2 separate regions of the Homo sapiens genome follow, and region 1 is linked to region 2. A link means that fine-mapping ties the variant in region 2 to the expression of a gene that starts in the linked region. Tissue or cell type: whole blood. Region 2 holds a variant in brackets; the other region holds the start of a gene. All regions are shown on one strand. Distances are between the middles of the regions.

The links. PIP is the estimated chance that this variant, and not a neighbour inherited with it, causes the effect.
Region 1: it holds the start of COPG2, and the variant in region 2 is fine-mapped to the expression of COPG2 in whole blood (INTERVAL, PIP above 0.99).

Annotation. Positions count from the first base shown.
Region 1 is chr7:130,664,496-130,672,595 of GRCh38, reverse strand. COPG2 (coat protein complex I subunit gamma 2) reads left to right here and starts at 3,848. Exons shown (of 24, transcript NM_012133.6): 1 at 3,848-3,964; 2 at 5,062-5,114; 3 at 5,667-5,747. The coding sequence starts at 3,928. It overlaps TSGA13 (testis specific 13), which reads left to right. Exons shown (of 8, transcript NM_052933.4): 7 at 808-935; 8 at 3,413-3,953. The coding sequence ends at 3,582. RefSeq lists silencers at 3,476-3,585, 3,676-4,265 and an enhancer at 4,536-4,645.
Region 2 is chr7:130,508,706-130,516,812 of GRCh38, reverse strand. All of the region lies in intron 20 of COPG2 (coat protein complex I subunit gamma 2), which reads left to right. Among named protein-coding and RNA genes, the nearest start is that of MIR335, 17 kb to the right of the region's middle. The variant T/A (reference allele first, on the strand shown) is at 3,507.

The sequences.
Region 1 (8,100 bases), 160 kb before region 2:
CTAACCTCATTGACACATGAATCAAAGAGAAACAGTCATGCAAAACTAAGGTTTTGCACTGGCAATGGTTTCAAGATTGAGGGGAAATATTCCAAGGTCTGTGCTTTGAAGAAACAGGAAAAAAAAAAAAGTACCCTCAATACAAGTTAGGCGCTATATCACAGGAACCATGTGCTATGAGAACACATTAGACAAAAGAGGTTTTATGTGAAACTACTTACAAGAGCAGCCTATGTGTAGTTTAGAGAGGACAGAAGAGATTCTGGAGTTCCTCCAAAGGTTTACAGTGTTAAGTTCAGAAGCATCCCTTGTCACGGAACAATATTCCTACTTGGCACCAATCAACAGGCTCCTATCATTGTCTTGTCTTCTCTGAGAATGTAGCCAACTTTAAAGTGAATGGTGGGGCTGGGCGCGGTGTCTCATGCCTGTAATCCCAGCACTTCAGGAGGCCAAGGTGGGCAGATCACTTGAGCTCAGGAGTTCGAGACCAGCCTGGCCAACATGGTGAAAACCGTCTCTACTAAAAATACAAAAATTAGCCAGGCGTGGTGGCAAGTGCCTGTAATCCCAGCTACTTGGGAGGCTGAGGCAGGAGAATCGCTTGAACCTGGGAGGCAGAGGTTGCAGTGAACCAAGATCATGCCACTGCACTCCAGCTTGGGTGACAGAACAAGACTTGTGTCTCAAAATAAATACATAAAATAAAATAAAATAAAATAAAATAAAATAAAATAAAATAAAGTGAATAGTTCCATGAATCCCCCTGCCCTAGGATCTACTAAACAAAGAACTTTCTTTGTTAAGGTTTTCCACTGACAATGATTTCAAGAGCGAAGGGAAGTATTCAAAAGTCTACGCTTTGAGGACACAGAAGAAAATGTACCCTCAGCTCACCTTTGCTCCAGTCCATGAGAGAGATATGAGGAAAGATGGTAAGCTCCTCTCTTTCAAAGCAAAGGCTTACTGGACTGAGATTTGGGCTGGAGATACAATCCATGAGGATTATAGATGTGGCAAACTGGCTTCTCTCGTGGTAGTCCTGGAGACTATTTTTCCCTATAGCATGGAAGTTAACAACAAATAGAGGCTCAAAAGGTGCAAAGCTCTGGACCCTGTTTAAATCCTCAAATTTCAAGAAAGCTCTAGCAGTGTTTACTAAGCTATATCACCCAGCACTTTAATAGTTTTTGCCATATTGATGTATTATTTGCTGTTAATTTACTTAGCATTTTTTAAAAGGATTTTTAAAAAATCTTGTCCTAATTAATACTATATCATTGATATCATGGTTTTGATGTACAAATTATATGCTTTTCTGAAACACTTATATCAAATTTATAATAATGAAATTTTAAAATGTTTATCTATGTACCACCTAGAACCACCCAGTGGTATGCATATTATACTTTGAAGAAAAAACTGCTCTAAAAGGGCCAAAGGATAAGTCTGTGTGTCTTAGAGGTACAAAAGTCTCTGGGATTGGGGTAGGGAATGGGGTAGAAGGGGCTTGGAATAAGGTTGTATGGCAGAGGGTACAATGAGAATCCTCCTCACATATTATCATTTATTTAACAGTATTTCAAGGGTTCCTACTAAGTGTCTGACACTTACCAAGCACCAACAATATCACTTTCAATATGTGAAAGAGATGAAACAGATCATAAAAGGCCTTGACAGGCTGGGCGTGTCCGTAATCCTAGCAGTTTGGGAGGCTGGGGCAGGAGGATTGCTGGAGGCCAGGGGCTTGACACTAGCCTGGGCAACATAGTGAGATCCTGTCTCTACAAAAAATAATTTAAAAAAATTTAACAGGGTGTGGCGGCATGCACCTGTAGTCTGAGCTACTTGGGGGGCTTGAGGAAGGAGGATTGCTTGAACCTAGGAGTTCAAGGTTGCAGTTAGCTGTGATTATGCCATTGCACTCCAGCCTGGGTAACAGAGTGAGACCCTGTCTGAAAAACAAACAAACAACAATAACAAGAAATCGAAAATACCACAATGCCTTAAATATTATTTAAATAAAGGTTTGGGTTTTATCCAGTAGGCAGTTTGGACCCAATGAAGAATTTCAGGGCACTGAGTACACATTTGTGTATTAGATATATATAATTGGTGGGTCCTCAGACTTCACCAGCTCATGGTTTTAAGATAAGGTCCATTTCTCCTACTGGGTTTCTCTCCTCAAACAATTCCTGAGACTCCCTAAGGTATCCTTGCCTGTCCCACAAAGCCATTGCAGTGATTGCTCAACCCGTCTGCCAGCCATCCTCAGTCCAAATAGTCCTGATACCGAAGGCCTGGGGTCATATTATACCATCCCTTAACTGGCTTCTTCAGGCTTCTCTGCTCCTGCTATACCTATCTGCCACCACATCCCATCCCATTTCCACCTACTGATGCTCTTAACTCCGTAAATACTGCACAGCTAAAAACAACCTGTGGTATTAAACAAAACTTCATAGATATACAGAAAAGCTGAAGAACAGCAGAGAATGATTGATCTTGCTTTACAAGGGGCTAGTCTTAGGGTCAGCCCCAAATCTGAACTCAGGTCCTTCTACTTCTCAGCAGGTCTCCGGGGCATTACCCACCTTGAGAACCTCTGGGCCTATTATCTACACTGTCTCTGCCTAGGTTCCCAATACCCTTGGGCCAAGGAAGAGGAAGAGGATGTTTCCTTCCCCAAAGCCTGTTTATTTTCACCCCCAGAATAAATGAGTGCAGACTTCTATTTCCTTCAAAGAAAACTCCACCTACAAAGTATGACTTGACCTTTACAAGCCATATAAAGCAAACATAGTAGTTAATAGTACATTTAGTCAAGTCGGAGTTAAATCTTAAATGATACCATATGTAGGATATCAACAGTTCATCTTAAATCTGTATTTCAGGGAAAGAATTTCTCTAGGATGTAGAATGTAATCTAGGTTAGAATTTCTCTAATTTTGCAGGGGCACGATCCTGTTGAGTATAGACCCAATTTACATTTCTAAACAAGTTATGCCAGTGAAGCCAAAGGCAGACAAAGTTTCTTAGCTACACTCTTAGACAAGAGAACAGAAAGCCAGCATACACTCTGAGAAAAAGAGGAACATGAGTTAGGAATGAATGCACGTTAATTTAGTGAGTTTCTTAAGTGTCAATATGGTTTCAGATGGAATCATTGAAAGAAATAGGCTTGAACAAGGAAGACTCTAAACTGGCAATGAATTTTCCACTGGGTTTTGATGAAATGAAGGAATCCAAAAATTATAAAATAGGTTGGGAATGGTATTACACGGTCCAAAATCTACCCTCTAAAGACCAGCCTCTGGTCCCTCCAAGTGCGTCTCCTTTACATCTCACATTAAGTATCCTTCGAGTACTTCTGAAAAGCCACATTCACCAGGGTGCCTGTGCTTTGTCGTAGCTTCCAAGAAGTCAGCGAGTGAAAGGCCAATTTCCAAAGTGATTCGGGAACCACTGACACTCGCATCGCTCTTGGAAGACATGCCCACCAGAACCGCGCCCGGGGAGAGCGCCTTCCGCAACGGGAGGGCCCCGCAGTGGATTATCAAAAAGGCCACGGTCATCGGGTGAACACAGACCCCTCAGTCCTCCCGCCTCGCTCTCTTGAGACTGAGGGGTCCGCAGAAGTCGCCACCCAAATAAAACCACATTCCTGCTGCTGCGGGCGTGGGCTCCCGGGTCGCAAGCCGGGAGGGTCGAGCCGAAGTCTCCGGCGGGCCGCAAGAGGAGAAGGGGGCGTGGCTGCGTCCCGGGGGCCGAGGGCGGCCGGGGAGGGCGGGCCTTGGCCCCGAGTGAAGGCGCGGCGGCCCAACCGGCGTGAGAGCGCGGGGCCGGCCTTCCTGCAGCCTCTTCCGCTCGCCGGCTGCGGCGCCTGGGACGGTTGCGGTGGGTCTGGGCGCTGGGAAGTCGTCCAAGATGATTAAAAAATTCGACAAGAAGGACGAGGAGTCTGGTACGCGCGGGGCTTCCGAGGCCCACCCTCAGCCGCGGGACGCCCCTTCCCCCGCCCGCCGCCACCTGCTTTCAGGCCGGCGGGGCTGGGGGCGTGGGCGCCGCCGTGCCAGGGGGCCGGAGCTGGAGCCGGCCCCTCCCCTCCCCTCGCGGCTGCCCGGGGCCTGCCCGTAGCCCCTCCCCCGGGCGCCGGAGCCTCCCTTCGGGCCGCGCGCTCCCGCCCCGGCGCCCGCGCGCGCCCCGTTCCCGCCCCTCTTGCGGCGCAGCCCCTCCGAGCCGCCTCCTCCCCTGCGCGCGGGCCTCCGGCGGGGGCCGAGGGCGTGCGCGCGTCTCCGCGTCCAGGGGTGCTGGTAGGGTCGGACCCCTAGTGGGAGCACCCTGTTCCCGGGGCTGGGGTCGACGGCACAGGGTGTGTGTGGAGGAACGTTCAGGTGCCTGGTACCTTATCGTTTTCCTGGGGTCACCGGCTCTGTCCAGGTCCCCGGGGGCAAGACTGTCCCGTGGGACACAGCTCGTTGAATGCTCAGGTGTCCAGAAGTGACCTGCGTCTTGATGCCCGTCTTTGGTCCAGAGCAAATGGGGAAGATGCCAAGCATCCTCAAAAAGAAAAAAATTCTCAGTGTTTGGTAGCATCTCCCACAGTGTGAGAGGGGGTTGGGTTAGTCAACCTCCATGGCCTCTTGCACCTTTACGCCTGCATGATTCTCTGGGAAACTTCGTTTCTGCCTCTCCTTAAGTGTTAGAAACACATAAAATACTGCTTACCTAAGGAAATCAAAAGCACCCTACTACAATCTCATTAATCTTCGTTGTTGTGGAAATGACACATTTTTAACATTCATGGAAAAAGAGGGCAGGGAAAGAAGACACTCATTTTGGAGAGGGTTGCTGCGAAAGAGAAGTCTCAGCTCTTCGAGTATGGCAGTGACAGAGCCGGGATCAAAATGATTTCATTCAGTTCGTATGCGTATTAGCCATGATTATCACTGTGCCATCCAAGTGTTCACTTCCCAAGCATTCAGTACCCTTCTCTGGAAAGTATATAAGTTTGTGTAGAACAGCTGTTCAGGACATTTTTTTGTTTTGTTTTATAAATAGGTAGTGGCTCCAATCCTTTCCAGCATCTGGAGAAGAGTGCTGTTTTACAGGAGGTATGACTGGGAAGTATCTTGTGCCCTTTCTTTTCTATTCTGTTTTAGAGTGGTGGGCAGAGAATCCCTGGGCTGCTGTGATCACGACATGCAAAACAAGAAACGTAACAGAGTTTAGGGAATATAGATTTGAGGGAAAAGAAAGAGGGGTTACTTGTCACAGGAGAATTTGGAGCTTATAGAAATGCAAAGACATGAAGACTGTCACAGGTTGGGAATTTTAAATGTAAGAACAGGTGTTTAGTGCAAGGTTATTGAAATCAGTTATCTGTATTAATCTCATTGTATTAGTATGATATAGATAAGTATTGTGATCCTTATTTAACTGGTATAGCCCATAAAGTTGAAGTAGTCAACCTAAGGGAATGAGAAAGTATAGGATGGAAAATCAAGGCCACGTGTAATAATTTATCAGATACCTTAGTAAATTGAGAACTATAGACAATGTTCTTTGGATACCGTGATTAAAAATAGTCTGTATTAAAGTTGATTTGCTATAATCTGTGATAGAAAAGGTAGAAAAGTAGCAATGTTTTTTATGTTTTTTCATAGGCTCGTATATTCAATGAAACTCCAATCAATCCAAGAAGATGTTTGCATATTCTTACAAAGATTCTTTACTTACTGAACCAGGTATATTATTTTTATTTTCCTCAGATAAGTGTGTCCTGGAATAGAAATACTGAAGATTCAGTGAAATACTTTCTGGAAAGTATATTTATTTATTTTAAATTCACTTAATTTTAACATATACAACGTTTGGTTAACAAAATAATATGTAAAACTTGAGTACGAGGACTATGACATATACAGGTTGAGTATACCTTCTTTGCAATGCTCGGAACCAGAAGTGTTTTGGATTTCAGATTTTTTTGGATTTTGGAATATTTGCAGAATACATACTCACTGACTATTGCTAATCTGAGTATCTGAAATCCAGAATGCTCTGATGAGTGTCTCCACTGAGTGTTATATTGGCACTCAAAAAATTTCTGATTTTGGAGCATTTCAGATTTTGGATTTTGAGATTAGAGATGTTTAACCTATACTTCCTTTTTATTCATGAGATCCTAAACCAGTGATGCGCATAGTAGATTCTCAATAAATCCTTTGGTTTCAATTTAATGAGTACTAGTTAGAGCATGTTGTTTACATGTATTTGGAGATCTTCATGTTTTTCTGAAAATACAGTGCAAGATCAGGCAAATTCCAGATATTTTCTTTTTTATGTGTGTAATGATGTTTTAAAGCTTTGATTGTTAATATTCAGATTTTATATTTATTATCCCTATGCTACCATTACTAGCAGAATAATTCTGGGCAGTAGCTTAACCATTTTATGTGCCTTGATGTCCTTTTCTCTACATGGGGATTATGATAATACCTGTTACAGAGTTGTAATGACTAAATGAGATAATTAGTGTAAAGCACTGAGAATAGTCCTGAACATACAGTAAGCATTCAGGAATAGTTTTCCTTCCGTCATTCAGCAAATATTTATTGCGTAGCTGCTGTGTGCTGTGCACTGTTTTAGGTGTTGGGGATATAGCAGACAAACCAGCAAAAATATTTGCGCTCATGAAATGTAGATTCTGCTTGCTGCTGTTGTTATTAATTTTTCTTTTCTTTTTCTTTTTTTTTTTTTTGCCCCAGACTTAAAAAAAACTCATGAAATGTCTAGGGCCTTAGAAAATATGATTTTGTTTCATGGATTCATATTCCCTCAGTATCAGTGGGGAATTGGTTCCAGGACCTCCATTGGATACTAAAGTCCATAGATGCTCAAGTCCCTCATACAAATGGTGTAGTATTTGCATATAACCTACACATATCCTCCCATATATAAGTTGTCTCTGTGATTATAATACTTAGACTATAATCTCTAGATTACAATACCTGGTGCAATGTTAGTGCTGTGTAAATAGTTGTTGTGCTGTATTGTTTAGGGAATAATGACAAAAAACCATCTGTACGTGTTCAGTACAAACATAGTTTTTTTTTTCCTTGAATATTTTCAATCTGAGCCTGGTTGAATCCACAGATTCAGAACTCATGGTTATGGAGGGCTGACTATATATGTCTATACACATACAGACGGACACATAAAACATACATATATACCATATACCTCAGGTGGTTTACATATGGTGCTAAGATAACCATGGTTTCCAATTTGAATTCTAAGAGAATATATTATCTTTACTTTGTTTTGTGACTGAAGACCTCACTCAGAGATTTAATAAAGTTTTCTTGTTTACAAATGAAGACTAAGCAACAAGCACATAGATTTTTTTTATTTTTTGAGATGGAGTCTCGCTCTGTTACCAGGCTGGAGTGCAGTGGCGCAATCTCGGCTCACTACAACCTCCACCTCCCTGGTTCAAGCAATTCTCCTACTTTAGCCTCCTGAGTAGCTGGGATTACAGGCATGCACCACCACGCCTGGCTAATTTTTATATTTTTAGTAGAGACGGGGTTTCACCATATTGGCCAGGTGGGTCTCAAACTCCTGACCTTAGGTGATCCGCCCACCTCAGCTTCCCAAAGTCCTGGGATTACAGGTGTGAGCTACTGTGCCTGATCATCAAACACATAGTTTTAAATAAAATATATCTGTTCACAAACAACATAATCCCTCTGTGTCAGCATATGAGAAACATTTAAAGCATAGTCAATTGGGTTTAACTTTTCATAGCACACATTGTGTCTAAGTTGGCCAAATCCATTGTATAAACAAAAGTTTTGAATAGTCAAAGTTGATTGAGAGTAACATGTATTTTTATGTTGGTCATTACCTCTTCAATGAGGCAACTCATGTTGAAACATTTAATTATCTTGATAAGGAAATTACCAAGCACAGCATAAACACAATTAACTATATAAACAGGTTTGGGAACATAAATTTTATCTCTTTGCCTAGAACTTGGTAGAGCTTTATAGAAAGATACTTTTGAATTTCTATGAGAGTTGACATATCCATGTGTTT
Region 2 (8,107 bases):
CTTCTAACATTTTTCCAACAAAGCTTCCTGGACAGCAAAACCTTATGCCCTGGCTCTTACTTTGCCACCTTCTTACCTTACTCTCTCCTTGTTAATACACAACTCTGACAAATTCCCAACTCTCATTTCCTAATATTCCCATTTAGCCCTCTTTAATGCCCTTCCATATCTGTTGTTTTTCTGCACTGCATGTTCTGCCCCCTACCTCATTCACACGTTCTCTTTCCCTATTTAGCATCCAACCTCCATCTTTTGTTCTCTCCTTCTTTGCGATTTTTGCATATAAGTCTCCTCAGTTGCTTCTCTCACTTTTGGCAAGTCCTAATATGTTTTCTTAATTTCTGAGTACATCCTTAATGTCCCTCTCAGAACATTTTTCCAGATTTCCCTTTGGAGGCTTCCCCTGTATAGCCTAACCTTTCATAGTGATGGATACATATTCTTTTTGAGGTTTCCTCCCCTCATATCCCCACTGTCTCCCTCATTCAAAACCAGTTTTCTACTCTTCAGATAAGCCTTCCCTTCCCCTTAGATAGCATCTAACCTGGCTTCTTTATTTTCCATCATGACCTTTCGCCCAAGTATGGTGCCAAATACCTCCAGTTAGTATCATTGACACTTTTTTTGGTCAATACTAAGTGATGCCTTCTCGTCTGGAAGCAATTTTAACTTCACTATTGTACACCTTTTTATTTTGCCTTATAAAAACTATATTCAGTATCCCTCCTTCATTCAGAGACTGTGTATGTCAGTTCCATAGATTCAGTACTGTCTTTTGGATAAACAGACCCCTCACACTCAACACTCACTGTTCAGACTGCACACTGGATCTGAGATCCACAGCTTCCTGAACAGTGACCCCTCATAACCTCAATTCTTACCTAGCCACGTTCTCTCCTTCCTCTGTCTACTTGAGTGGCTGTGACTGGATTAACATAAAATCACTCTACCAGAGTTGCTACTCTCCCTGTCCCAGTATTCCTCATCCTGTCATGCTTCAGTGCCCTTCCTCACTGGCCTGCTTACTGTGCTGCAAGTTCAGCCTCCAGCCTCATTCATTTATCCCTTCCCTTTTGTACCCTCCATCACCTCCATTCTCTCCATCTCTCCTCTCCTTTCATTCAAGTCTCTTCAGTTGCTTCTTTTAATTTTCAGCTGACCCTAACACAACAGTTGCTAGCAGAGGCTCTTTATCAGAATTGTTCCTAGCCTGCCTTTGTCTAAAGCAGTGGTTCTCCAACTGCAGCTGGTTAAAACAAGCTGCAGGGCCTTACCCCAGGATGTGGTTTGGATCTGTATCCCTACTCAAATCTCATGTCGAACTGTCATCCCCAGTGTTGGAGGTAGGGCCTAGTGGGAGGTGACTGGGTCATGAGGCCAGTTTCTCATAAATGGTTTAGCACCATCCCCTTGGTGCTGTTCTTGTGATAGAGTTCTTACACGACCTGACTGTTTTCAGTGTGTGGTACCTCCTCCCACTCTCTATCTTTCTCCTGTGAAGTGCTGGCTCCCCACCATTCACCTGCCGCCATGATTGTAAGTTTCCTGAGGCTTCCTCAGCCATGCTTCCTGTACAGCCTGTGGAACCTTGAGCCAATTAGACTTCTTTTCTTTATAAGTTACCCAGTCCCAGGTATTTCTTTATAGCAATGTGAGAACAGATTAATGCACCCTGAGTTTCTGACTGACTAGGTCTGGGGGAGGGGAAAAGAATTCATATTTCTAACAGATTCCTAGATAGTGCCATGTAACACATTCTAAGAAGCATTGCTCTTCAACTTCTCCCTCAACCAAGCCCTTTAATTAAAAATCTCCCACTAAGGCATCAAGAGCGAGTCTACTGACTCATTCCTATTCAGGTCTTTCCTTCTCTCCCATATACTAGTCACTGCAATCTGGCCTTACACCCACTGAATTTGGCCAGTTGGGCCCATTCTGAGATCTGGCAGGATTCTCCAGGCATCTTTATGGCGCTGTGGTCTTTCTTATTACCACGCCACCTTTTCAGAATCATTATCTAGTTTATTTAATGCTCCCCTTAGCTTTAACCCCTCTTCATGTCTTTTGGCCCAAATATGGGACTGTCTCTCCAGTCAGTCCTGCCATTCTTCAAATGACCTTTTCATCTGGAGTCAACTTTAATGTTTTCTCCTATTCCTTTTCTCCTTGTTACCTATCTTGCCCTAAAGATGTACGCTACCTTATCTTCAGCCTCCCTTCTTTTAGCTGCTGTCCATATTTCATTCAGATGGACTCTGTCTCCTCCTGAATGGCACTTCCTAGCCAAATTCTCTCTAGTGTCTGTCTCTCATCTGTAGAAAATCTTCACATGACAGAGTAACTTCTAAGAGTAACTTTAATACCGCACTTACATGATATTCATTTGTTTCTCCCCTTTGGTGATTTGCCCTCCCTTAATTATATAGAGTAAAATTTCATCTACCATCTGTACCTGGAAACAAAGAAGTTTCACCCTTGAGATGGGTTTCCAACATGATCTCCAGCCACTCCTCTTCCAATATTAGTCATCCATTCTACAAACTACTCAAAGATCTATCCTGGTGTCTTTAAGTGCTGCCCTATTAGGGCTCATCTTAATCCATCTCCTTCTAATCCTTCTCATTAAACTTCTCACAAAAGCTTCGCATTACTTTTCAAGCACTTGTTCTTCTTCCATTGTATCTACTGCTTTTCAAAGTCTGCAATTAAGAGCCAACATTTGACTGAATAAACCCACATTTTTTAAGGGTTTACAAGATTTCCCATTCTGGGAAACACTTTCCTCATTTTACCTGTCCATGCCACTCCACCTACGCTTACCTACTCTTTGTATAGTTCTCCCTTTACACAGTTTCCAGTCTCTCCTTATTTAATCTTACACTTATGGGGCCGTATCCCTCCAGTCAATACCTGCCAATCTTCAAATGACTCCGTCTCTTCTGCAGGCTCTTCCACTATTTTCCCCAGTTGACCCTAGTAGAACAACTGTTAGTCACTTGTTTTTTCAGCTATCATCTTGTGTATCATTCTCATGAATTTAGTCTTTTCTTCCTCGTCACCTCCACACTACTCTGAAAACACTTGCACTTTCAGTTCATTCCAGACCTTCATAGGGTTCCTGCCACTGCCTATGGCAAGAATCCATTCCATTTAAACTCCTTGACCTTTCACTCTATTGGTCACACTTGTTGCTTCAAACATCATTCAAGCAAAGATTCCCAGATGGCACTTCCTCATGACACCAGTTCTTATTTATCTACTTACTCTTTGTATTCTCTTTCCTTCTTTGGTTGTAACCCAGCTTAACTCACATCTCTCTACTGCATATGCAGCTCTGCCATCTTCTGGTGTTCCTCATTCTGGCCCTCTTTAATGCCCTTCCCTACCCATACATATATATGTATATGTGTATATATATATATACACACACACACACATATATATATATATATACACACACACACACACACATATATATATATATATATATATATATATATATATTT[T/A]TTTTTTTTTTTTTTTAGACAGAATTATTTCACTCTTGTCACCCAGGCTGGAGTGCAGTGTGGCCTGATCTCGGCTCACTGCATCCTCCACCTCCCGGGCTCAAGTGATTCTACTGCCTCAGCCTCCCAAGTAGCTGGGATCACAGGCACCTGCCACCACGCCCAGCTACTTTTTGCATTTTTAGTAGAGATGGGGTTTCACCATGTTGGCGAGGCTGGTATCAAACTCCTGACCTCAAATGATCCACCTGTCTCAGTCCCCTGAAGTGCTGGGATTACAGGCATGAGCCACCGTGCCCAGCCCCTACCCACACTTTATATTCCACACTCCAGCCTAAATCCTACATCTTTTCATCTTTTAGCTTCCAGCCTCCATCTTCTCTTTCTCTTCCCCTGTGATATTTTCATTCATGTTTCCCTAGGAAATGTCTGTCACTTTTAGCCAATCCTCACATAGCAGAGTAACTTCTAGGCAACTTCAGTGGAACACTGTGCAATAGTCTACGATATCTTAACTGTCAGTCATCCTTTCACTTGCCATCTCTCTCTTTTTTCTTTTTTTGAGACGGAAACTCACTCTGTCACCCAGGTTAGAGTGCAGTGGCGTGATTTTGGCTCACTGAAACCTCCAGGATTACAGGCATGTGCCACTACGCCCAGCTAATTTTTGTATTTTTACAAAAATTTTTAGTAGAGACGGGGTTTCACCATCTTGGCCAGGCTGGTCTCAAACTCCTGACCTCAAGTGATCTGCCAGCCTCAGCCTCCCAAAATGCTGGAATTACAAGTGTGAGCCACTGCACCCGGCCTTACCATCTCTACAGAAATAGATATAGACTTTTTTACTTCACTCTTCATAATCACCCATTCCCCATCTAGTAGCAATAATCCATTCTCTGGACAAACTACATGTTCACACTCTCTTAATAAATCAAGCCTAATATTTCTAAAGTTGCCATCTATAGCTTTTTTGTTGTTTTTTGTTTTTTTTTTTTAGATGGAGTTTTGCTCTTGTTGCCCAGGCTGGAGTGCAATGGGGCTTGGCTCATGTTAAATTGTCAGAGTTGTATATTAACAAGGAGAGTTGTGTATTAACAAGGAGAGTTAACAAGGCTCACCAACTCGGCTTACCACAACCTCTGCCTCCTGGGTTCAAGTGATTCTCCTACCTCAGCCTCCCAAGTAGCTGGGATTACAAGCATGGGCCACCACGCCCGGCTAATTTTGTATTTTTTTTTTTTTTTTTTTTTTTTTAGAAGACACAGTGTTTCACCATGTTGGCCAGGCTAGTCTTGAACTCCCAACCTCAGGTGATCCACCTGCCTCAGCCTCCCAAAGTGCTGGGATTACAGGCGTGAGCCACTGCACCCGGCCCATCTATAGCTTTTTATCAGCATTCATCAGTTTATAACTTTCCTATCAAGCAAGTCCTTTAATTAGCCATTCCCTCAAAAGCTTTAAGAGCTAGTCTGCTGCTGCCTCCTACTGAATTCCTTGCTCCTTAACCCTTTCTGTGTATTTCCCATGCAGCCGACCATTTAGACCTAGACAGGATACCCCATTCTAAATCTTTATTCCACACCTGCTCTGCCAGTAGGCCCTTCCTTATGTAATATTTTCTTTCCTTTGCTTCCAGTCTCTTATTTCATACTCTCTTATGACTTTTGGCCCAGCAATGCTGTCTTACCTTCCTGTTGATGTGTGTCATTCCTTAGTGACCAACTCCTTTTCATCTGAGGACAACTCTAATGTTGCTTTCCAGTACCATTCCTCCTTCCCTTTCTGAATTTGTCCTAGAGAAAAACTCCCTCCCACCATTTGTACAGCATTCCCACAGACTCAACACGATTTTCCAGGTAGGTGTGTATTGCTTATTTTGGCACTCACTGCCCAGCTTTCCTCGATGTCCTACACACTATGCTGCACCCATTGCTTCTCAGTTCAGTCCAGACCTGCATAGACTGCTGCAGTTAGCCTGTACAGATCCATCTCTTTTGCCTTCTTTCTAATCTTTTGCCCTAGTGACATACCCTTTTCTTTAATTATTATTCTAACAAAGCTTTCTGGAAATACCTCATAAGTGTCTCTTACTTTGTCATGGTCTCCCCCAGGTGGTTGAGACCTGGCAGCTCCCTCCCACCTTTCCCACTCTGCCCTTTGCCACACTGCATTTTCTGTACCCTGGCCCAACTCACATGTCCCTCTCCTGTCTTAGCTGCCAGCATCTATCTTTTCTCTAATTCGCTGGGTTCTTTTCATACAAATCTCCTTAGTGGTTGACTCTCATTTTCAGTGAATCCTCACAAGACAAGCTTAATTTCAGAGAACAGTTTTAATGCAGATCTTCAGGGCATTCTTTCCTGATTCTCTTTGGTATTTGCCTTGCTTTGTCTGTGTAACTCTCATATTTACATTATGGCAGTGCATTCAGTATTTTCTTGCCATGGAAAGGCCCCCGCATCTTGCCTCCTCGCCCCATTTCGTCATCCTCTCCAGCAGCTTCGACAGATTACTGCCTAGACTTCCTTAGATCCCTGTAACCTCTCATTGTATCAATCAAACCATTTAAGTAAAAAAATTCCCACTAAGGTTTCAGGAACATTATCTCTACTAACACCATTCCTATTTACTTCCTTAATCTCTTTCTCTGTATCAGGTCCTTATATGTAAGTGTCTTCTGTCTTTACCTCCACATAAAACTCAGCCCCTGTGCCCAGTCTGTGATCTGCCTTCATACCTGATGTTGTCTCTTTGTCCTCCTCATTTGCTGTAGCCTCTCTGCTTAATTGGAACCACACTGGGTTGCTATAATTAATGTCTCTCCTGACTCTTCATTCTAACTTGATCATGACCTTTTCCCCTACCATATTCTGTATCTCTTTCATGGTTTAAAAAAAATGCCTCACCTGACCTGTTCTGGCCTTGTGTTAACTTTCACTTCTTTCCCCTTCTCTCTGAAGAAAATCCTATCCTAATTAAACCACAGTCGTTCTTTTCTCAACCCCTAATGGCATTGAAATTGATTCTGCAGGCTTGATAGGTTCATTCTTTCCTATATGGGAAAACCCACTGCCATCGTCTGTTTTCAGCATATTCTGTTGAATCCATCTGCTCTCTGAATTCAGACCCATTCTTCATAGTCCCCACCAGTGGCTTAAATTAGGCACCTTATCTAGCTTATCTCTAACCTTTCAATCTCTTGACTGCCTCAGCTCACCAGAGCCTGTTGGAAAATCATTTGAAATACAAGGTATTTTACAATTTATTCCTAAACAAATTATCTTCTCAGCACCTAGGCATTAGCATGCCTCTTACTGTTTCCAGCTGCCCGGTGGACTTTCTGGCCTCTTTCCTTTTGCCTGTTTGTACATCTTCCTCTGCTTGCCAAAGCTCTTTTGCATCTTTTGAGAGCCAGTTAAACTATTATATCGTTTCACATTTTTTACAGTTTTCCCAGGCTATTTGTTAATCCCGCACCCTCACATGGCACTCTCTTAAAACTTAAAGGATCTATGGCATTGAGTTGTAAAGTCATAGATAGATCACACACACACACAGCCCACACACTTATTTAACTCCTAGACAGCTCCTAGAGACAGAGATCATGTCTCAGTCATCTTTTTATCCAAGTGTCTGGCACATAAGCTTATACCTTTACGTGTAATGTCAACATGTATTGACAGTCACTACATGTGTGGATGGATGAATGGATGGAATTTAAAGTCAAGACTGAGCAGATGAAAGTCTTATTACCCAATCTGTCGTATATGGTCTTCACATCTGAGCCTGTTCTTTCCTCTCCTTGCCTATCCCCCAAATAACTTTTTAACTCTCCCAATATCTAATATTTTTTGTACCTATAAGCTTTTTCCAGACCATAGACAAGATCCTAAATGCCTTTTCTTCATCCCTGCTTGCTAAATCCCCTCCTTCAAACATTTCAGAAAATACTGTCTTTACTTTTTATAAAGACTTCACTTTCCAAAAATGTACCCCCACCTCCATTTCTTATTACTTAACACCACTTGTGTGAAAACATACAACTGCCCACTTGCTTTTCCATTTAAGACACTGACTTTACCAATACTAGAAACTCATTACTGACCTACTCACTTTAGGCTGAAGGTTGACAGATAAAGCAAGTTCTCTCTGGTGATCTGTGGACCCGCCATCAGTCCACAATCTAAAGATAGTATTGAGATGCTGATGAGATTGGTCAATGTTAATCTGATGATCTGTATGCTTTTTACCACAGGTTTTTTTTTTGTTTTTTTTTTTGGTCAGGTCCTACAGCAGTGGTTCTCAAAATATTTATTTTTCAACATTTAGGCCCCTTTGATAGGCATGGCAAAAAGCCCCCAAAAGTACCTCTCTGCTGCTTTCTTCATACCAATAGAGAAACAGTCTGCCCATGTTATCATTTCTGTACTGCTGTAACCCACAGCGTGGAATAGACTTTACATTCATGCTTTGTGAGACTGCCTTCCTGACCCGCTTGTAGGCTGCTTTTGAGAACCACTACCCCAGACAACAGGGCATGTGTGTTTAACTGGAAAATGTGGAACACAGTGCTGAGTACAGATGGAATGATGGAAACGTCT